Linked DNA regions of Homo sapiens: region 2 is linked to region 1. Evidence: fine-mapped QTL for protein levels in blood plasma. Region 1 holds a variant in brackets. A gene starts in the other region. All regions are shown on their forward strands.

Region 1 (5,167 bases):
CATTTAGCATCCCGAGCCTCCTCTCTGGGCCTCATTTTCCTCATCTGTAAAACGGAGAAAGGCCCTGACAGCCACGGTCTGTGTGAGGCTCCTGAGATCTCATGTACAGAAAGTGCTTGGCGTGGAGCTGGGCATGCAGCAGGGGCTGGGCACACGGTGGCCCAAAGGAGCCCTGGGCCTTCACTGATGGGCTGTGTGGCCACTGACACACCTAGGCCTCCTCACCTGTAAGACAGACACCATTGTGCCATCCCATGTTCTCACCCAGAGGCTCCTTTTCTCTTCCAGTGGGAGGCCAAGAGCATTTCGCTCACTTGCTGATCCTCAGGGACACCAAGACCTACATGCTTGCTTTTGACGTGAACGATGAGAAGAACTGGGGGCTGTCTGTCTATGGTAGGCATGCTTAGCAGCCCCAAACTCATGCCCCTCTCAGGCCTCACCCCCCATTCACCCACCCCTGGGCTGGCCCCTAGAACCCCAGCCCTCCCTGGCCTCCCGCCGGGCCCCACCATGTCCCCAGTCAGTCTCCTTGCTCCCCCTGCAGCTGACAAGCCAGAGACGACCAAGGAGCAACTGGGAGAGTTCTACGAAGCTCTCGACTGCTTGCGCATTCCCAAGTCAGATGTCGTGTACACCGATTGGAAAAAGGTAAACGCAAGGGATTGGACAGTGCCCACCTTGTCCATGGCCCAACTTGGGCAGCCCCAGAGGCCCAGAGCAGGAGAGCTGCCAGGCAAGGCTGCACAGCTAGGCAGATCTTCTGCTTTTAGGCACCTGCCTCACTGTAGGGACAGCTGAGCTCTACAGAGGCCCAGGGGTGGTGGATGAGAGCCCAGGAGGGAGAAGTCCCTGTGAAACCAGGGAGGACCTGAAAGCTAACAGGAGGGAACAGCGTGAGCCACGGGGTTGGGGGATTGGCAATTGGAGGGGACGTAATGCGGGGAGTTACCACCTACAGACGCGTCCCAAACCCCAGGCTTTCACCCCACCTCCACTCCCCACTCATTTTTAATACCCGTGCAGTGGGGAATTGATACTGTGGTTTTCAATGTCACCCACACTGCAGCACGGCCACAGTCACCATCCCGATTTTTGCTACAAATGAAAATTACTTTATAATGAGCTCCTTAACACTTTTCTTTAAACCTGTGTTTGGAAGACTTGCGTTGGTGTGGCCCTGTGCCCAATACCTGTGAAATCACAGCACCGATGAGCTGGTTCCAATTTTTAAAATATATACATGCAGTACTTCCATGACTATTCAAAGAAAAACAATTCC[T/A]TCCATTTGCCATCTGAGATGACCACCAGTGGTGTGAACTACCTCCTGCCCCCATCTGCAGTCCCAGGATCCTGGGACAGGGCTTATGAACACAACCACTGTAGTCAGCTCACCTGATCCACAGCCTGGCACCCCCACTGTCTGGCTAGGGAGCCTCGAATGGGTCCCAAGGCCACCCTGCTCCTCAGTTACATCATCTGCATAGTAGTGGTGGTTGTGAGGAATTCAGGAGCTGCAGCATAAGGGCTCGGCAGGTCCTAAGTGCACAGTAAATGCCAGTGATTCTTAAGAGTCTGAGCTCCCATTGTAGAGGCAAGTAAGCTGAGGTTCAGAGACAGAAAATGACTTGCCCAAGATCACCCAGCTGGGAAGTGACAGTGCCAGGGTTGGAGCCCTGGTTGAGCTGGTTCCACAGGCCAGAGCTCATTCTGCCCTCTCCCTGGAAGACCTCCCACCCTGTCCCCATGCCTCTGCTTCTCCCTCACCCCAATTCCCCGCTGCCTTCTAGGATAAGTGTGAGCCACTGGAGAAGCAGCACGAGAAGGAGAGGAAACAGGAGGAGGGGGAATCCTAGCAGGACACAGCCTTGGATCAGGACAGAGACTTGGGGGCCATCCTGCCCCTCCAACCCGACATGTGTACCTCAGCTTTTTCCCTCACTTGCATCAATAAAGCTTCTGTGTTTGGAACAGCTAAGCTGTTAGTCATTTGTTCATTCATTCATTCTGAAGCCTGCCCTGAGTTCAACCCTGGCTGGGCACTGGATAAGACGCTGTCCCTGGTGGGAAGAGCCCCACACGTGCCAGGATGGAGGATGACAGGCACCGAGTGCTGTGGGAGCCCAGCACTGTGGGAAGACATTTTCTTCTGCAGGGCGAAAATCTGGGAAGGCTTCCTAGAAGGGGCATCTGAACCAATCTAGAAAGATGAGGAGCATAATACAACCTGCTGTTCTGTGTACAATGTGTGATGATCAAATCGGGGTCATTTCCACCACCTCAAACATTTACCATTTCTTTGTGTTGGGAACATTATCACACAGTTCCCCATAAATATGTACATTATGTGTCCATTTAAAACAATACAAGCAAACAAATGTGAATTTCTAAACTGAGACTACTGTAAGGCCTTTCTCCTAATAGCAAGATTGTAATAAAACTTCAACTAGTCATAAAAAAAAATCCTTTTCTGTTTCTGCTGCAAGCAAGGAAATGAGAGGATGCATTTGAGTAACCTTGAGGCAGAAGACCCTAAACAGGAGTGGAGGTGTGATATTGTTTGGCTCTGTCCCCACCCGAATCTCACATGGAATTTTCAGCCCCATGTGTTGGAGGCGGGTCCTGCTGGGAGGTGATTGTATCACGGGGCTGGTTTCTAATGGTTTAGCCCCACCTCCCAGGTGCTGTTTCTCACAAGGTCTCATTGTTTAAAAGTGTGTAGCACCTCCCCCTTCGCTCTGTCTCTCCTGCTGTCTTGTGAAGAAGGGACTTGCTTCCTCTTTGCCTTCCACCATGATTGTAAGTTTCCTGAGGCCTCCCAGCCATGCTTCCTCTGAAGCCTGCGGAACTGTGAGTCAATTAAACCTCTTTTTTTCATAAACTACCCAGTCTCAGGTAGTTCTTTATAGCAATGTGAGAACAGACAAATACAAGGTGGATGGGGTGGGGAGAGTTCAGGCATGTGGTGCCTATCACAAGGACCTTATTCCAGTATTACCATGGCCATCGGGGGAGGCACGTTGTGGGGACCAGGCTGGAGGCAGGAAGGCCTGAGTGAAGGCTGCTGTGGGCAACTAGGCAAGAGGCGGTTGCCTGGGCCAGGACAGGGCAGGGCAGGGAAGGGCTGGGGTGATGCAGAGGGCTTGGGGCCCAGGCCAGAGGGGCTGGGTGTCTCCATGGACGTGTCCTCAGGGTGCTCACCTGGGAGACCCAGAAGAAGGAGACAACACGTAAGGGTGAGGCTGGTCCCTGGAAATCAGTTGACATCTTGCAAATGTGGAGCCCTGAGGTGGAGCCAAGCCCGAGGCACAGCCCACTCAGTGGCACAAGCCACGAAGGGCCGGCCTCACCCAGACCTGGGGGCTCATGATTGACAGCCTCTTGTTACGTGAGGGAAGCAGCACTCCTCCCGTGGCAGAAAAGTTGGGCCTGAGTTGTTCCATCTATTCCGTATGTGCAGCTGCGTACACCATACAGGGTGATAAGACCATGAGCCTGAGGCTCTGACACCCCAGGGTCCAGTCCTGTGTCCTCAGGCACCACTCCCCTTTGTACCTCCTGTCCCAACAGCCAAGCTCCACAGGGCCAAGACTACAGCATCCTTTGCTCAGCACCCAAACCACTGCTGTGCCCACAGCACGGAGGCTGGGGACACCGAGCTGATGTCCTCAGAAGGCAAGTGGACAGGACAGCCTCTGGGGTCCCACAGTGGCCTGGAACTGAAGGCTCAGAACCTAAAAGAAGTTTCCCCATTTCAATGTTACTTTCAGTAAGACACCATTTTCAACCATACTGAGGAGGATCCGCTGAAAAATGAAACAGAAATGAGTCGTGATGGGCAGGGCAGGGAGAAGCAAGGGAGACGAGAAGTGGGGAACATGGAAGGAAAAGCCACGTGAGGAAGAAACCAGAGGTCAAGAGAAAAAGAATCATGGAGGTAGAGGAAGCAAAAAACACACATAACAAAGAATGTGGACTTTGGAGTCAAACTAATGTGAGTCCAAACCCAGGCTCTCTCCCAAACCAGTTTGGGCAGATGGCCCAGTGGAACCTCACTCTCCTCATCAGTAAAAAGGGGGCAGAGTGAGGGTCCTGAGAGCTAGTACAGGGACTGTGTGAAGTAGACAATGCCCAGTGTTTAGCGTAAGAATCAGGGTCCAGCTGGTGCTCCCTAAACAGCAGCTGCTGTTCACTGTTGAAAGGCGCTCTGGAAGGCCAGGCGCGGTGGCTCATGCTTGTAATCCCAGCACTGTGGGAGGCCGAGGTGGGCGGATCACCTGAGGTAGGGAGTTCGAGACCAGCCTGACCAACGTGGAGAAACCCCATCTCTCCTAAAAATACAAAATTAGCCAGGCGTGGTAGCACATACCTGTAATCCCAGCGACTCGGGAGGCTGAGGCAAGAGAATTGCTTGAAACCAGCAGGGGAGGTTGTGGTGAGCCAAGATCGAGCCATTGCACTCCAGCCTGGGCAACAAGAGCAAAATGGCGAAACTCCATCTCCGAGAAAAAAAAAAAAAAGAATACTTTCTGAAAGTATTTATTCATACAAATAAAGACTTGACCCATAAGGTAGGAACGCAAATGGGCCACGGAATCACTCATTCCACAGTATACACCGAGTGCCCTTGAAGTGCTGGGCACTGCTCCAGGATTGGGGGCATATTGGTGAAAGAGAAGCAAGCTGCCTGCTCAGATGGCAGGGAATGGGGAAAAACAGGGAGACAGTTTCCTGTTTGAGATGTTGGGAGATGCTTCGAGTAGTATATTTACTGGAAATAGACATTCAACTTGGATGTCCCTTTTTGGAAATGTGCCTGCGTCCAGGGCTGGGTTGGGGCCCCAATGAACTTTGGCTCTGACATAGCTGTTGCCACACTCAGTGGAACTGAATCCATGTTTGCCTTCACCCGGCATCCTTCACCCCAACTCTCCCCGCCACAACATACATCCCATGCCAGCCTGGGGACCCTCAAAGGTGCTTCATCATTAGGTTTGTGGCTGGGTCCTACTGAAGTAAGTCTTGGCACTCAGAGGGATAGGAATTGAATGAAGACATGAGATTCCTCTGCGGGAGGCCTCTCTAGGAAATCTGTGGACTCACACGTTTACTAATGTTGCTGCAGCCCCGCACCCACCTTGGCCTTGGGCAGCCATACTCTAGGGCT
Region 2 (14,556 bases), not on the chromosome of region 1:
AATTAATATTTGTCTGGCTGAAATTAAAAATAAGAAGTAAAGGAGAAGAACTATGACAGTCAACCAACTTATTTATCTCTTTATAAATCTGTTTTCCGCCAGGCACGGTGGCTTAGGCCTGTAATCTCATCACTTTGGAATCCTCCCAACTGAAGCAGGAGGATTGCTTTGGGCCAGGAGTTCGAGACCAGCCTGAGCAACATAGTGAGATCCCATCTCTACAAAAGATAGCAACATAGTGAGACCCCCATCTCTATAAAAAATTTTTAAAATTCATCAGCCATGGTGGCACACACCTGTAGTCGCAGCTACTCAGAAGGCTGAGGTGGGAGGATTGCTTGAGCCAGGGAGGTCAAGGCTGCAGTGAGTCGTGATCGTGCCACTCTACTCCAGCCTGGGTGACAGAGCAAGATCTTCTCTCAAAAGTAGTAATGAAATGAAATGAAATAAAATAAGATAAAATAAAATAAATCTGCTTTCTCTCGCATAATATTGAGGACATAGGAGTTGTTGTTTTCTGCCCAAAGGACCAAAAAGAGTGAATTTAAATTCCTACTGTGAAGTGAGGGCCTGGACTTTAGAAATCAGAACATCTTTCAATAATAATTATATTCATGAAAAGAAAAAAAATACATGATCCTTCCTAAGATTGCCTCTAGGGCAGAAAAAATAAAAGAAGTATAACAGGCTTTAAAAAGTTTTTAAAAATCTCTTCTAAGAAATCCTCTTTCTCTGATCAAATTTTCATATTTTGAAATTTTTCTTCTCTCTTCCCATCTCCCTCTTGCTCTCTCGCTTTCTCTCTCTCTCTTTTTCAAAATTCTCCTTCCAATCATTCTATATAAAAGACATGGAGAAACACAATCCTAGGGAGTTCATCTTCCAGGAAACCAAGCTCCCATGACGGAAAGTCCATGAAACTGAAAGTTTCACTTTTTCTTTTTCTTTGATACTATTTTTCCTTCTAGATGTTTTTCTTCTAACTGTGAGTCTAATGTTTCTCAGTTTTATTCCAAGTGCTCCTAATCATACTGAAGTCTCTCTCCAGGGATCACCCTCACCCTAACATGAGACAGATTTTCACAAAAATAAGATGCCTAGGAGGTCGCTTGAGTTTGGTTTGGCTTTATTGTGGTTTTATTTTTTGGAAGAGAACCCCTTTGCTGTCTCCTGAGGCATGTTTAGAAAGGGGTGTGGACAGGCCAAGGAATGATATAAACATCCCTAGGAATAATAAGATATATATAGAAAAAAAAAAAAAACCTTTCCTGTATCCTCTTAGTATTAACCATACTATAAAAGGCCTTAGTGCTAGGGTCAAATTTTGGATACCAATTACTGTGTAATTATATGAAACTTTGTGGGTGGAGAGTTGTCAGACTTAACCAGTTACCCTTCATCAGGCATCAGAGAGGGAAAATTTTGTTTTCCACCCAAGAAACTAAGCTGACATTACCATATACAGTCTATTAGTATACCTATGAAATGCAAAAGGTCTTAAAAGCTGGAGAAGACACCGAGAGTTTAAATAATGTGCATGTTACAAACTAGTTGCAGAGCTAGGATTAAATTATGTTTAACGCTATACTCTGCACACTTTTCCATGAGCCAGTCAGGAATCACAGAGACATGGGGGCAAAACTGGTGGCAATGTACATAATATTTCAGAAAGCACTTTTTCATCCCTTTGTATTTTGAAATGTAAACGTCTTTGTTTCCTTAATCCTCACATATGGCACATAGGAAACTTCCTCATGGGAATCTGAGTTCACGGGTTGAGTCTGCTTTTCTGTGTTCATGTAAATGCAGGTTTCTTTTCTCTTATGAATCTATTTCAAATATTGCTATTTTCATACTCTCTAAATGAAAATCTGTGTTATCCTTCCTATTATTTGAAAAGAGTATACATCTAAAAACATATGAGCTATTTCTAGAATATCATTGAGGTTCTAATTCACAGTATTTAGAAATTTAATTATATTTTTCATCTTCAGTAAAAGTTAGGTGACTCAATTTTATATCCCCATCAACAGATATTATTTACTGAAATATAATTCAAAAACAACATTACCATTAATGATAATTGCTCAAATTTCTTGAGTTACTGAGAAAAATGTCTTATATGAATGTTCTCATCTAGCCTCACAAACACCCCCTATAAGGTAGATATTATTATCTCATTTTACAGGTAGGGAACTGAGGCCTAGCAGGTTTAGACAGCTTATTCAGGAACACACAGCTACTATTAGCAATAGTTACTAATGAACTATTAGTAACTCCCCAGGATTGTGTTTCTCCATGTCTTTATATAGAATGATTGGATGGAGAGTATTGAAAAAGAGAGAGAGAGAAATAGTTATTAATAGTAACCATAAGTGTGTTCTAGATACACATTATTTCACTGGAAGCAACCTTTACAAAAATTGAATTACCAAGGAGTCACTTAAGTTGCCTAAGTCACTAAGTTGCACAGAGCTACCCAAGCTGACTGATTCCAGAGCTGGACATTTTCAATCATCTTCCTATCCTCCCAACACATCTCAGATCAATATTTATACATGGCAGTGCATCTGGAATCATAGAATGACAGCAGCTTGCAACTTTTCCCTTCTACATTATGAAATGTCCACTCTGCCAGCAAGATGAATTCTGAAAGCATAAATTTAATCATACTTCCTCTCTTCCATAGGAAGAAGTTTCCCAAGGCTCTTTCTGTTTTAGTCAGTTTCTTAGTGTACTGTATCAGGCTCCTCCTAATAGGATCCCATTTTACTTCTTAGCCTCATGGGTCCAGATCATGTCACTTCCTCTGGGAACTCGCAAAACTAAACTCAATCAGTAACTCATTCATTCCTATATTGCTTCTGCGGCCTCCAACATTGATTTAATAGCACTAAATGACATTTACTACAACTATTGATTTAGAGTATTCCTTCCACTTCTCTAAGCACCTGAAAAAGAGGCTCCTCTAGTACATCCCATAATGTCTTGTCATTAGTAGGTTTGATTTAAAGAGTTGTTGAATCAGTTAACAGCGATTTATGTCATGACTGTGATGAGGGATTTATGCTGTAATTGAGGAAATAAAACTAAAACGCTGGGAAATTCAATAGTACTGTAATTAATGTGAACAAGGGAAAAGAGGAACTTGAATTTATTATTAAATTTTTTAAAATTATTTAACCAAAGTAATTTTTCATATTCTTTTGATAGGATAAAATTTAGTCTCTGGCAGGAATCTCAGCCTGTCAGTTATTTCATCCTCTCTCCTCTTACTGTACTGTTAATGTGAAGTTCTCTCCCTGAACTTATTTTCAATCTACAATTGAGTTAGAATTTCCCACATCTTAAAAAATCATTCTTAAAATCTGTCACCCAATGCTGTAATACCTCAGCAATAACCCATTTTATCTTCAAAAAAAAAGAGAGAAAGAAAAAGAGAAAATGACTTAAATTGTTTATTTTATTATGTAACCATCAGTTCCTTTTCAAACCACTGCTGTCAAAACTAAATATTTTCCTCCTTATTGATAAATTGTTAAATAATCATTTTAGTCTTCCTTTCGCTTAAACTCTCTGCAGTATTTGTTATTTGTTGTTTTTAAAACTCACAGTCATTATCATTGACTTTTCTAAAACTCTTGAATTTATTGTCCTTCCATTACTCTAATTTTCCATTACTCTTGAATTTATTGTCTCTTGATGCCCTTGTTGTCTCTCTCCAAGACTCCTGCTTCTACCACTCTCTGCTATTCATCCCTGGTAGCTCCTTTTGGAATCTTTCATTCTTCTTGCTCCTCAGGTGTTGATATTCCCTCAGATTATCTCCTTGACACTCTCTTCTGTTCATTCATGTTTTCATTTTACATTCCTTCCCTCAGTGATCTCACTCACTCTCATACATTTTAGTTACTAGCCATTTATTTGACTTAATGACTTAGGTACCTCATTTACTTTATTTATTTAATTACTATGCCAGTAATTCCCACATGTCTATGTAGCCCAACCCACATCCTGCATATACGGGTGTCTTTGGACAGCTCCAAATGCATGTCCCTCCTTCTGCAGACCCCTTAAACTCAAACTCAATTCATCATCTTTCCTGTCCCTTCTATAGTTTCTGTCTCAGTTAACATCAGCACCATCTACATTACATCAAACAGAACCTAGTCAACCTACCACCGAAGTCCCTTTCCTTGTCTCCTCACATGTAACCAATCACCGATTATCTAAACTCCAACACCTCGACATCTTTCATATCTGATTCTTTTTCCTTATTTTTACTATACTGCCTCAGTTCAGGTTTTTCTACCCTTGTACTGGACTAGTGGAAAAATTTGGTATCAGCACATGCAGTTTCATATACCTTCAACTTATCATTTCCATTGCAGCCAGGAAGGTCTTTCCAAAATGCAAAATTTTGTTTCTCCCTATCTAAATCCTGCATTGACTTCATTTTAACTATTGAATAGAATTAAACTAGATCAGCATGCCCTAAAATCCCTCCTTAACTTGCCAGACTTACCCCTTTGCTAAGTTTCCCTCCTCCAACTCTACACCTACGCCATACATATTGCTTATAGTTCTCTAAAAATACAAAGCTACTGAAAACCTTCATGACTTTCCCTTCATACGTCTCTCTGTCTATAGTGTCCCCAGCCTCTCAAACACCCTCACTCCCGATTCCTTATTATGTGGAAGATGTTAAAATTAACTCAACTCCACAGTTGCTCCTTCTGTTAAGCCTTTCCTGAACTCCTCTACTTAATTAGGTAAAAATTAAGCCGAGAGCTTGGTTAAGCTCTCGGCTGTACTGTACATGCTTCTGCCATAACACCTTATTATACTTACTCCTTAGTTGAGAATTGTATTAGACTTTCAATTTCCTTATGAACAGGGACCATATCACATTGGACATTATATCCTCAGTACTAGGATAACATGACCCCAAACATAAGTTTGTGAAAAATGTATGAGGTTGTTGTTTTTCATTTTCACTATCTTAATTGTTTGGCATTTTTACTATCTTAATTGTTTGGCATTTTTAAACACAAACATAGTTGTTACGTCAATTGTTATTGACAAAAGTCTAGAAATTAAATGAATGTGTGTGTGATTTATTTTTATTAATTCTAAAAAATAAAAGTTGCCAGCTCTTAATGGTATCACATCATTATGTTGAATCTGAATCCTCCACATTGCCGAAAATTTCTGAGTGATTTCTGCTGTTATTTTTATCAGCGAAGGTATATCAGATATGTTTATCTAAGAAATAATTATACTTCTATGATGGTATTCCCCTAAATGTTTGTATTACCATAAAAAGATGAAAACAAGATCTCATATATGTTGCCTAAGATAACTATTTCCAGATGATTTCTTCCAAGACAATTCTTTGTAATCTCCACTTCTACTGTTTCAATATCCATTTCTTACAAAGAAGCTCCCAGATGTTGCAGCTAGTGTTTTATCTTGCTCCACCTCCCTCTCCACCCTTCAACCTCAGCAGAACTTATTTGTACATGCTGTTCTTAATTATGCTGATCTCTAGTCCTTGACAGAGTTCCTGGCTCCAGTCAAAGGTGGAAAATGAAGTTATATACAAGCTACTCAAAACCACAGCCGTAAAAATGGACTCTTCGTAAGTTTTTTTGGAGGAAAACGCTTTGTATCCTATTACACATATCCTGTGGCTACAAAAGCTGACATCCCTACTTTTGTCACTTAGCTTCATTTCAAAGAGGTTGGAAATCCCCAATGTCCCTTAACAGCTTACTGGGTAGTTTAGTTAAAAAAAAAAAAAGCCATATTAGTAGGTTTCAGGTGGAGGGTCATTTAATAAATAGAAATAAATAGAAAGTGAATGGAGGGTTTAGTAGGAGAAAGGAAGGAAAACTAAAAGTTATTTGATAAAGAAATAAGGAACAGGATAGTTTTTTTTTTTTAAAGGTATATCCAGATTTACAAAGGTGAAGAAAACAATGATATAATCAGAAGGGAAAGGGCATATTAAAACACAGGCACTGAATGAATGTTAAAATGTGGGATTCCTTTCAACATTCCATTTCTTAAGAACCTAAAGTGTTCCTTTCAGCAATTTTGTGTCAGTCTATATCAGATCAGACAGACATTCAAATATTTTACATAATTTATCATTCTCAGTACTCACAACCACCTTGTAAAGGAAGTTTTATTACTTCTATTTAATATTAAGTCAAGTTAATATGAATTAATATACTTAAAGTATTTAAAACACTGCCAGCACATAATGAGCCCTTTATACATGTTTGTGGCCGTTAATATTTTATAAATAAAGAATATGATGCTACCAGGATACTTAAACAACTCATCCAAAGTTACACAGAAGGAAAGTGGCATACCTGGTTTAGGACCTAGAACCTAGTCCTGTGTATATTACCATGTGAGTCCTTTTCACTAGAACTGAAGTCATATTTTAGCTTTAGATTGGCTGAGTGGCCCAGGAAATAAAATCCTTCTCTAAGTGTGGGAATTATGGAACTGAATATAACTGAAAAAAAAAAATCACTACTATGTCACAGGGCGAGTAATTGGAAATAAAATTATAAGATGCAAGCTAAATATCTCCATTTCTAGGAGGGATAGATCATCTCACACATTTCACAAGGACTGTGGTCTATTTGGACTCCAGGAGACAGGGTACCTGTGCGCCGGGGCTCTGGATGCCGAGTTGTGGCAGAGCCTTGAGAATGCAGGCTCATGGTGGTGTCCCCATCATCATCCAGCATGTCCCTCGTGCTGCTGTACTTGGCCTGCATCTGGATTCCTACAGCGGTGAGAGTGAAATGTGGTCGGATTGCCCTGGGCCGCCGGGCTACTGTGAGCTAGTTCAGGAAGCAAGGCACTAAAAGGCATTCCTAATGTTCTTTCCCAGCGAGGGGCAGGGAAAGTCTCTGACTGCAATTCCTGACTGGACAGGCCCAGCCCCTCTCCTGTGAGCTTGTACTCTGAATGCCAAATCAGTCAGGCTGAGGGGAAATAGCATGTGTTTTCTGTTTAGGCCGTCTCAGTCTAAACAGTTGTCAAAAAGTTGGCCTTTCTCAGGTCTTTTTTGTTTACCTGTTTGCATTTCTCATGTAACTTCACTGTAAAGAAGGCAAGAACTTACAATAGCACGGTGTAGCACTGTGGTTCCTTCAGAGTCTGCAGAATAATAATAACTTGGAAGGACACACATCCCTGTTTCTTACCCATCCTTTAGGGAGTCACTTAGTTTAACCTCTCTGTGTCTTTGTGAAAAGAGAAGAGATTATAGGACCTAGCCCCTTCCTTTCTCCAAGAACAGAGTAGTGGTCTTTCTTATAGTATCTGAACTTGATTCAACATTTTATAGCACATTTGGTACATTATGATCACGAGGAATTATACAATTTACTGGAAGTAAAAACTTTTAAAACTATTACTAACCACCATGTGGTTTGGGGAAGCCAGTTCATTTGTGCCTAAATCTCCTAAACTGAGAAGAAAATGTTTTAGGTAATGTGAAAAAATTCTTCCTGAATCAGTACATTAGAATTATATTCCCATCTTAGTCTGTTTGTGCTGACCTACAACAGGATACCTGAGACCAGATAAATTATAAGCAATAGAAATGTATTTCTCAGCATTCCAGAAGGTGGGAAATCTAAGATCAAGGCACTGGCAGGTTTGGATGTCAGGTGAGAGCTGCACTCTCTGTAGAGGAGGAAGGGTATTCTCACGTGGCAGAAAGCAGAAGGTCAAGCCAGCCAAATGCTACATGTAGCGTCTTTTATAAAGGCCTTAATACCATCCTCAAGAGAGAAGACTTCAAGGACTAATCATCTCTTAAAGGCCCCACCTCTCTCAATACTACCACACTGGCAACACCTGAATTCTGCAGGAAACACATTCAAACCATAACAAGACAGGTATCAGTAACAACCTTGTGCCTTTGGGAGGACAATTAACAATTTGCATCTACATTTCCTAAACTGAAAGACAAGAAGATTGTTTTAGATAATGTCTAAAAGTTCTTCCTGAATCTGTACAATAGACTTATATTACTCTACCAAAACTTTTCCAGATGTTAGGTGATAGGTGGGCAAAATCAAGCATGCTAAATATAAAGGAGTGTCAGAATGCTCCAGTTGGGGTAGCCAGACCATATAAAAGATCTATGAGGAAGTGCACATTGTGGATTCACATGTGTTTCAAGCTGTTTGTTGTTCATCAAATTATTCTAAATTTTTTAAAAATTGGAATTTTTTTTTTTTTAGATGGCAGATTGGAGGCAGTGTTAGCATGACTCTACCACTTGGAAGGACAAAATAGTGAGTAAAAAATTCTCACTGTGGGCCAGCCATGGTGGTCACGCCTTTAATCCCAGCACTTTGGGAGGCTGAGGTGGGTGGATCACCTGAGGTCAGGAGTTCGAGACCAGCCTGACCAACATGGCAAAACCCCGTTTCTACTGAAAATATGAAAATTAGCCGGGCGTGGTGGCGGGTGCCTATAATACCAGCTACTGGGGAGGCTGAGGTAGGAGAATCACTTGAATCCGGGAGGCGGAGGTTGCAGTGAGCCAAGATCACACCACTGCACTCCAGCCTGGGCAACAGAGCGAGACTCCATCTGAAAAAAAAAAAAAAAAAAAAAAACCTTCTCACTGTGAACTCTTTTCCCAAGAAGCAACACAGGAACTGAACAGGAAAACTGAAAGAATCCACAGACTCTTTGAAAGAAGCAGCAGGTTATACCTACACCATGAGCTAGGTGAAAAACTGTAAGCTCCCAGGGTGTGTGAGGTGAAGAGACTGGCTCCAGGATACATACCCCCACAGGGGAACCTGAAAGTCCATGCCATGGGGGAAGGCCTTAACCCGTCCCAGCACTGGAACCAATTAAAAGAGCAGTGATGAATATAAAAGTAAGAGCAGCAGCAGGAAGAGGCTTGTGTGCATTCCCAGTCTCCAGCATGAGCCAAGGGAAACTATTCCTTATGCCTCACAGACAACCTCACGGAACTCAGCCAACTAGCTCAGCCAGGGGTTGCACATTGTAAAAACTCCCAACTGAAATTCACAATATAACCTCAAGTGAAATGAACTCCCTTGGCCAGAACCAGAAAGGTGAGTGGGAAATGTGTTGCAGCCGTGAGTGCAGGATCTGGGTGCCAGCTGTGTGGGTGGACAGAGAGGGGCATGGCCTGAACGCCAGCAGTTGCTATCACCACGGGAAAAGTTTATGGCCTCAGGCAGTTGTGAGCTCTGAGTGCAGACTGCCTGGAACTTAGCTCACTGCTGCTAGCAGAGTACTGCAGGAGCCAGATCTGCCTTGCCAACTGTGTGACATCTGGGTTAGGCTTACTGCTGCCTACTACTCCCCACTCCCTGTGCAACCACATCTCCAAAAGGGGCCGCTGCTTGCCATGCACATGGTGACTCAGAGTGCAGACCCACCTAACACAGCCCTCATCTGGCTTTGCCCCTCCACCCACCGTGGTAGCTTAATACAAAGGACAGAAACCCTGGGGAGATTTATAGCCCCATCCATCACCTGAGAAGCCAGACTACCTACCCTGGGCAACATAAGGCAAGCACAAATCCCACTGCTACTACCACACCTGATACTCTTTTGCAAATGCCACCCAGTAGCTGGAAGCCTACCAACACAGTCCATTGCAGCATCTGTAGGTGGAATAACACTGCACTCAAGAAGGACAAAACTACTGTGTGACCTCAGCTATTACCACTTCCTGCACTACCCTGTCTAACCAGGAGGTCCTGAGTCTATCCACATGACCAGTTTATTACTACCTGAACTAGCATTCAAGAAAGACAACACACTAAAGTTATCTATAATCAAGGAATCTCACAGGTCTATGTCACGCCTCTGGCACCCCCATCAGACCTGGTGCTGATAACAGCTGCTGGAAAACTGGAGGACAGGTCATATCACTGGATCCTTAGCAGACATCCCCCAGCACTAGTCTGGAGCCACTGAGTGGCTAGACCCTGAGGAGCAGCAGCACTCATAGTAGTCTGTCTCTCAGGAACTTCTACTCCTAAGGAAAGGGAGAGTGTGCCACATCAAGGGAACACCCTGTGTGAATAAAGAATCCAGATGGCAGGTCTTAAGGATTAGATTGTTCCACTGGTGGGAAGTTTCTTTCAATAGAGGCAGAATTGAAGTGCTGGGCTCAGCAGGGAATGTCTACAGCTGTCCCAACAGTCAGACAGCCCTGGTGCTTATCAAGGATCTTGGAGAAGGGGACTTCTTACCAACCTCGTCCACCACTGCAGACACAGCTGGGTCTTCTCCCACAAGAGCTCAGCATGGGTGCACCCATAGACAGACTTTGTAGAACACTTCAGGGTGACCGCAACCCCACAGGGGAAGCAACCCTCCAGTTTCAGGCTTACATAAGAGGCAGAGTCACAGTTCTCTACTTGGAGCACTAACATTCCAGCAGATGAAAAGAGAGGCCTGTCTGATCTGAATAGCCAGAATATTGGGACAGATGTGAGTCTGGGAGATGGATAGCTTCCCAGCTGACCTGACAGGGGAGCTAAGGTGGCTACCACCCTTCCCCTGATAAGACTTCAGTGTGTCTCCCTGACAGCTCCCCCAGCCCCTTTTGTCAAGGCTGAGACCTCTGCCCACCATTGGGTATTGCATTTACCCACCTTCTTTAGCCACAACTGGTTCCTACCTAGGAACACCTCCACTACTGGCCTGAAGCCTGAACCATCAACCCAGTGAATAAAATACTGGAGCAAAGTAAATAAATTTAAAAGTGCATACCACATTGGAATGAGATAAGCTTCCAGAGACAGTAAGTTTGCTCACACATTCAGCACATTACTACTATGTCTAGCATCTGAGAAAGCCATCATACAAAGTTTCTCTATAACCAAGGAAATCATACAGAATTTTCACCCCTAAAAGCACCAAGAACCAAATTAGGCTATAACAAACTATAAACATTAAAGTCAAATTCTTAAGAAGGAAAATAAGAAATAAAATCACACAGTCAAATCAAAAATAAATTTAAGAATAATTAGAAGAAATAGTCTACCCAGATGAGGAAGAACCGGAAAAGTAATTCTGTTAATATGATAAAATGGGGTTCTATAACACCTCCCAAAAGATCACATTAGCTCTCAAGCAATGAAGCCAAACTAAGATAAAATCTTAGAAATACCAAATGAAAAATTCAGAATGTTGTATAAGAGCTACTCAAGGAGATACCAGAGAAAGGTGAAAACCAACATAAAGAATTTTTTTAAAAAATTCAGATTATAAATGAAAAATTTTCTAGAGAGCTAAATATCATAAAAAAGGAACGTCTGGAAATGAAAGGCACATTTAGGGAATTACAAAATGCAGTGGAAAGTATTAACGATAGACTAGAACAAGTAGAAGAAAGAATTTCAGAATTCAAAGACGAGGCTTTCAAATTAAGCCAATCAGACAAAAATGAAGAAAAAAGAATCAAGTAAATGAAGTCTCCAAGAAATATGATAGTATGTAAAACAGCCAAACCTAAGAATAATTGGTGTTCCTGAGGGAAGAAGAGAAAACAAAAAGTTTGGAAAACTTATTTGAAGGAATAATTGAGGAAAACTTCCCTGGCCTTGCTGGAGATTTAGATACCCAAATCTGGGAAGCTCAAAGAACTCCTGAGAAACTCATTGCAAAAAGATCACCACGAAGGCATAGTCGTCAGGCCATCTAAAGTCAACATGTAGAAAAGAAATCTAAGAGCAGTCAGACAAAAAGCATCAGGTCACCTATAAAGGAAAACCTATCAGACTAACAGCAGACTTCTCAACAGAAACCTTATAAGCCCAAAGGAATTGGGACTCTATCTTTAGCTGCCTTAAACAGAGTAACTGTCAGTCAAGAATGTTGTATCCAGCAAAACTAAATGAAAGAGAGATAAAATGAAATGAAAGAGAGATAAAGTCATTTTCAGACAAACAAATGCTGAGAGAATTTGTAGTGCTACCAAACCAGCATTACAAGAAATGTGAAAAGGGCTGGGTGTTTTGGCTGATGCCTGTAATCCCAGCACTTTGGGAGGCCAAGGTAGGAGGATCACAAGGTCAGGAGTTCGAGACCAGCCTGGCTAATATGGTGAGACCTCATCTCTACTAAAAATACAAAAATAAGCTAGGCCTGGTGGCTCATGCCTATAATCCCAGCACTTTGGGAGGCCAGGGCAGGAGGATCACCTGAGGTCAAGGGTTTGAGACCAACCTGGTCAACATGGTGAAAACCCATTTCTACTAAAAATACAAAATTAGCTGGGCGTGGTGGTGGGTGCCTGTAATCCCCACTACTTGGGAGGCTGAGGCAGGAGGATCACTTGAACCCAGGAGGTGGAGGTTGTGGTGAGCCAAGACCATGCCATTGCACTCCAGCCTGGGCAACAAGAGGGAAAAGTCCATCTCAAAAAAAAGAAAAAAGAAAATAAAAAATTAGCCAGACATGGTGGTGGGCACCTGTAGTCCCAGCTACTCGGGAGGCTGAGACAGGAGAATTGCTTGAACCAGGGAGCTGGAGGTTGCAGTGAGCCAAGATCGCACCACTGCACTCCAGCCTGGGCAACAAAGTGAGACTCCGTCTCAAAAAAAAAAAGAAAAAAGAAATGTGAAAAGGAGTTCTAAATCTTGAAACAAAGCTCAATATGCACCAAAATAGAACCTCTTGAAAGCATAAAACTCGCAAGGCCTATCAAACAACAACACAATGAAAAACACAAAGTATCTAGGTAACAATTAATATGAGTACAACAGTACCTCACATCTCAATATTAACATTGAACATAAATGGCCTAAATGCTCCACTTAAAAGAAACTGATTGGCAGAATCAGTTTTAAAAATTACAAACCAAATATCTGCCATCTTCAAGAGACTCATCTAACATGTAAGGACTCATATAAATTCAAGGTAAAGGGGTAGAAAACAATATTTCATGCAAATGAAAACCAAGTGTGAGCAGGAGTAGCTCAAAATAAAGGCATGGAGGAAGATATACCAAGGAAATGGAAAGCAAAAAAAAAGCAGGGGTTGCAATCCTAGTCTCTGATAAAACAGACTTTAAACCAACAAAGATCAAAAGAGACAAAGAAGGCCATTACATAATGGTAAAGGGATCAATTCAACAAGTAGAGCTAACTATCCTAAATATATATGCACCCAATACAGGAGCACCCAGATTCATAAAGCAAGTCCTTAGAGATGTACAAAGAGACTTAGATTCCCACACAGTAATAATGGGAGACTTTAACACACACCCCACTGTCAATATTAGACAGATCAACGAGACCGAAGGTTAACAAGAATATCCAGGAATTGAACTCAGCTCTGCACCAAGCAGACCTAATAGACATCTACAGAACTCTCCAACCCAAATCAACAGAATATACGTTCTTCTCAGCACCACATCGCACTTATTCCAAAATTGACCACATAGTTGGAAGTAAAGCACTCCTCAGCAAATGTAAAAGAATAGAAATCACAATAAACTGTCTGTCAGACCACAGTGCAATCAAATTAGAACTCAGGATTAAGAAACTCACTCAAAACCTCACAACTACATGGAAACTGAACAACAACCTGCTCCTGAATGGCTCCTGGGTACATAACGAAATGAAGGCAGAAATAAAGATGTTCTTTGAAACCAATGAGAACAAAGACACAATGTACCAGAATCTCTGGGACACAAAGCAGTGTGTAGAGGGAAATTTATAGCACTAAATGCCCACAAGAGAAAGCAGGAAAGATCTAAAATCGACACCCTAACAACACAATTAAAAGAACTAGAGAAGCAAGAGTAAACACATTCAAAAGCTAGCAGAAGGCAAGAAATAACTAAGATCAGAGCAGAACTGAAGGTGACAGAGACACAAAAAACCCTTCAAAAAATCAATGAATCCAGGAGCTGGTTTTTTTAAAAGATCAACAAAATCAATAGACTGCTAGCAAGACTAATAAAGAAGAAAAGAGAGAAGAATCAAATAGATGCAATAAAAAATGATAAAGCGGATATCACCATCGATCCCACCGAAATACAAACTACCATCAGAGAATACTATAAACACCTCTATGCAAACAAACTAGAAAATCTAGAAGAAAGGGATACATTCCTGGACACATACACCCTCCCAAGACTAAACCAGGAAGAAATTGAATCTCTGAATAGACCAATAACAGGCTCTGAAATTGAGGCAATAATTAATAGCCCACCAACCAAAAAAGTCCAGGACCAGACGGATTCACAGCTGAATTCTACAAGACGTACAAAGAGAAGCTGGTACCATTCCTTCTGAAATTATTCCAATCAATAGAAAAAGAGGGAATCCTCCCTAACTCATTTTATGAGGCCAACATCATCCTGATGCCAAAGCCTGGCAGAGACTCAACAAAAAAAGAGAATTTTAGACCAATATCCCTGATAAACACTGATGCAAAAATCCTCAATAAAATACTGTCAAACTGAATCCAGCAGCACATCAAAAAGCTTATCCACCACGATTAAGTTGGCTTCAT

Direction of the effects. Positions count from the first base shown, and alleles are read on the strand shown. Strength reflects both the effect of a copy and how common the allele is.
With allele T in place of A in region 1, the plasma level of the protein whose gene starts at base 6,860 in region 2 is lower (moderate association).

The links. A credible set is the group of variants that fine-mapping cannot tell apart. PIP is the posterior inclusion probability: the model's chance that the variant is causal. Protein levels are from antibody-based Olink assays in UK Biobank. Linkage for the fine-mapping came from a reference panel and not from the study's own genotypes, which makes the PIPs less certain.
Region 2: CLEC1A starts here. The variant in region 1 is the best candidate, but not a certain one, in a credible set for the plasma level of the CLEC1A protein (UK Biobank, PIP 0.88).

The regions. Positions count from the first base shown.
Region 1 is chr9:114,324,502-114,329,668 of GRCh38, forward strand. ORM1 (orosomucoid 1) reads left to right here. Exons shown (of 6, transcript NM_000607.4): 4 at 289-396; 5 at 548-651; 6 at 1,791-1,978. The coding sequence ends at 1,856. Among named protein-coding and RNA genes, the nearest start is that of ORM2, 2.8 kb to the right of the region's middle. The variant T/A (reference allele first, on the strand shown) is at 1,283.
Region 2 is chr12:10,092,126-10,106,681 of GRCh38, forward strand. It overlaps CLEC1A (C-type lectin domain family 1 member A), which reads right to left and starts at 6,860. Exons shown (of 6, transcript NM_016511.4): 1 at 6,683-6,860. The coding sequence starts at 6,797.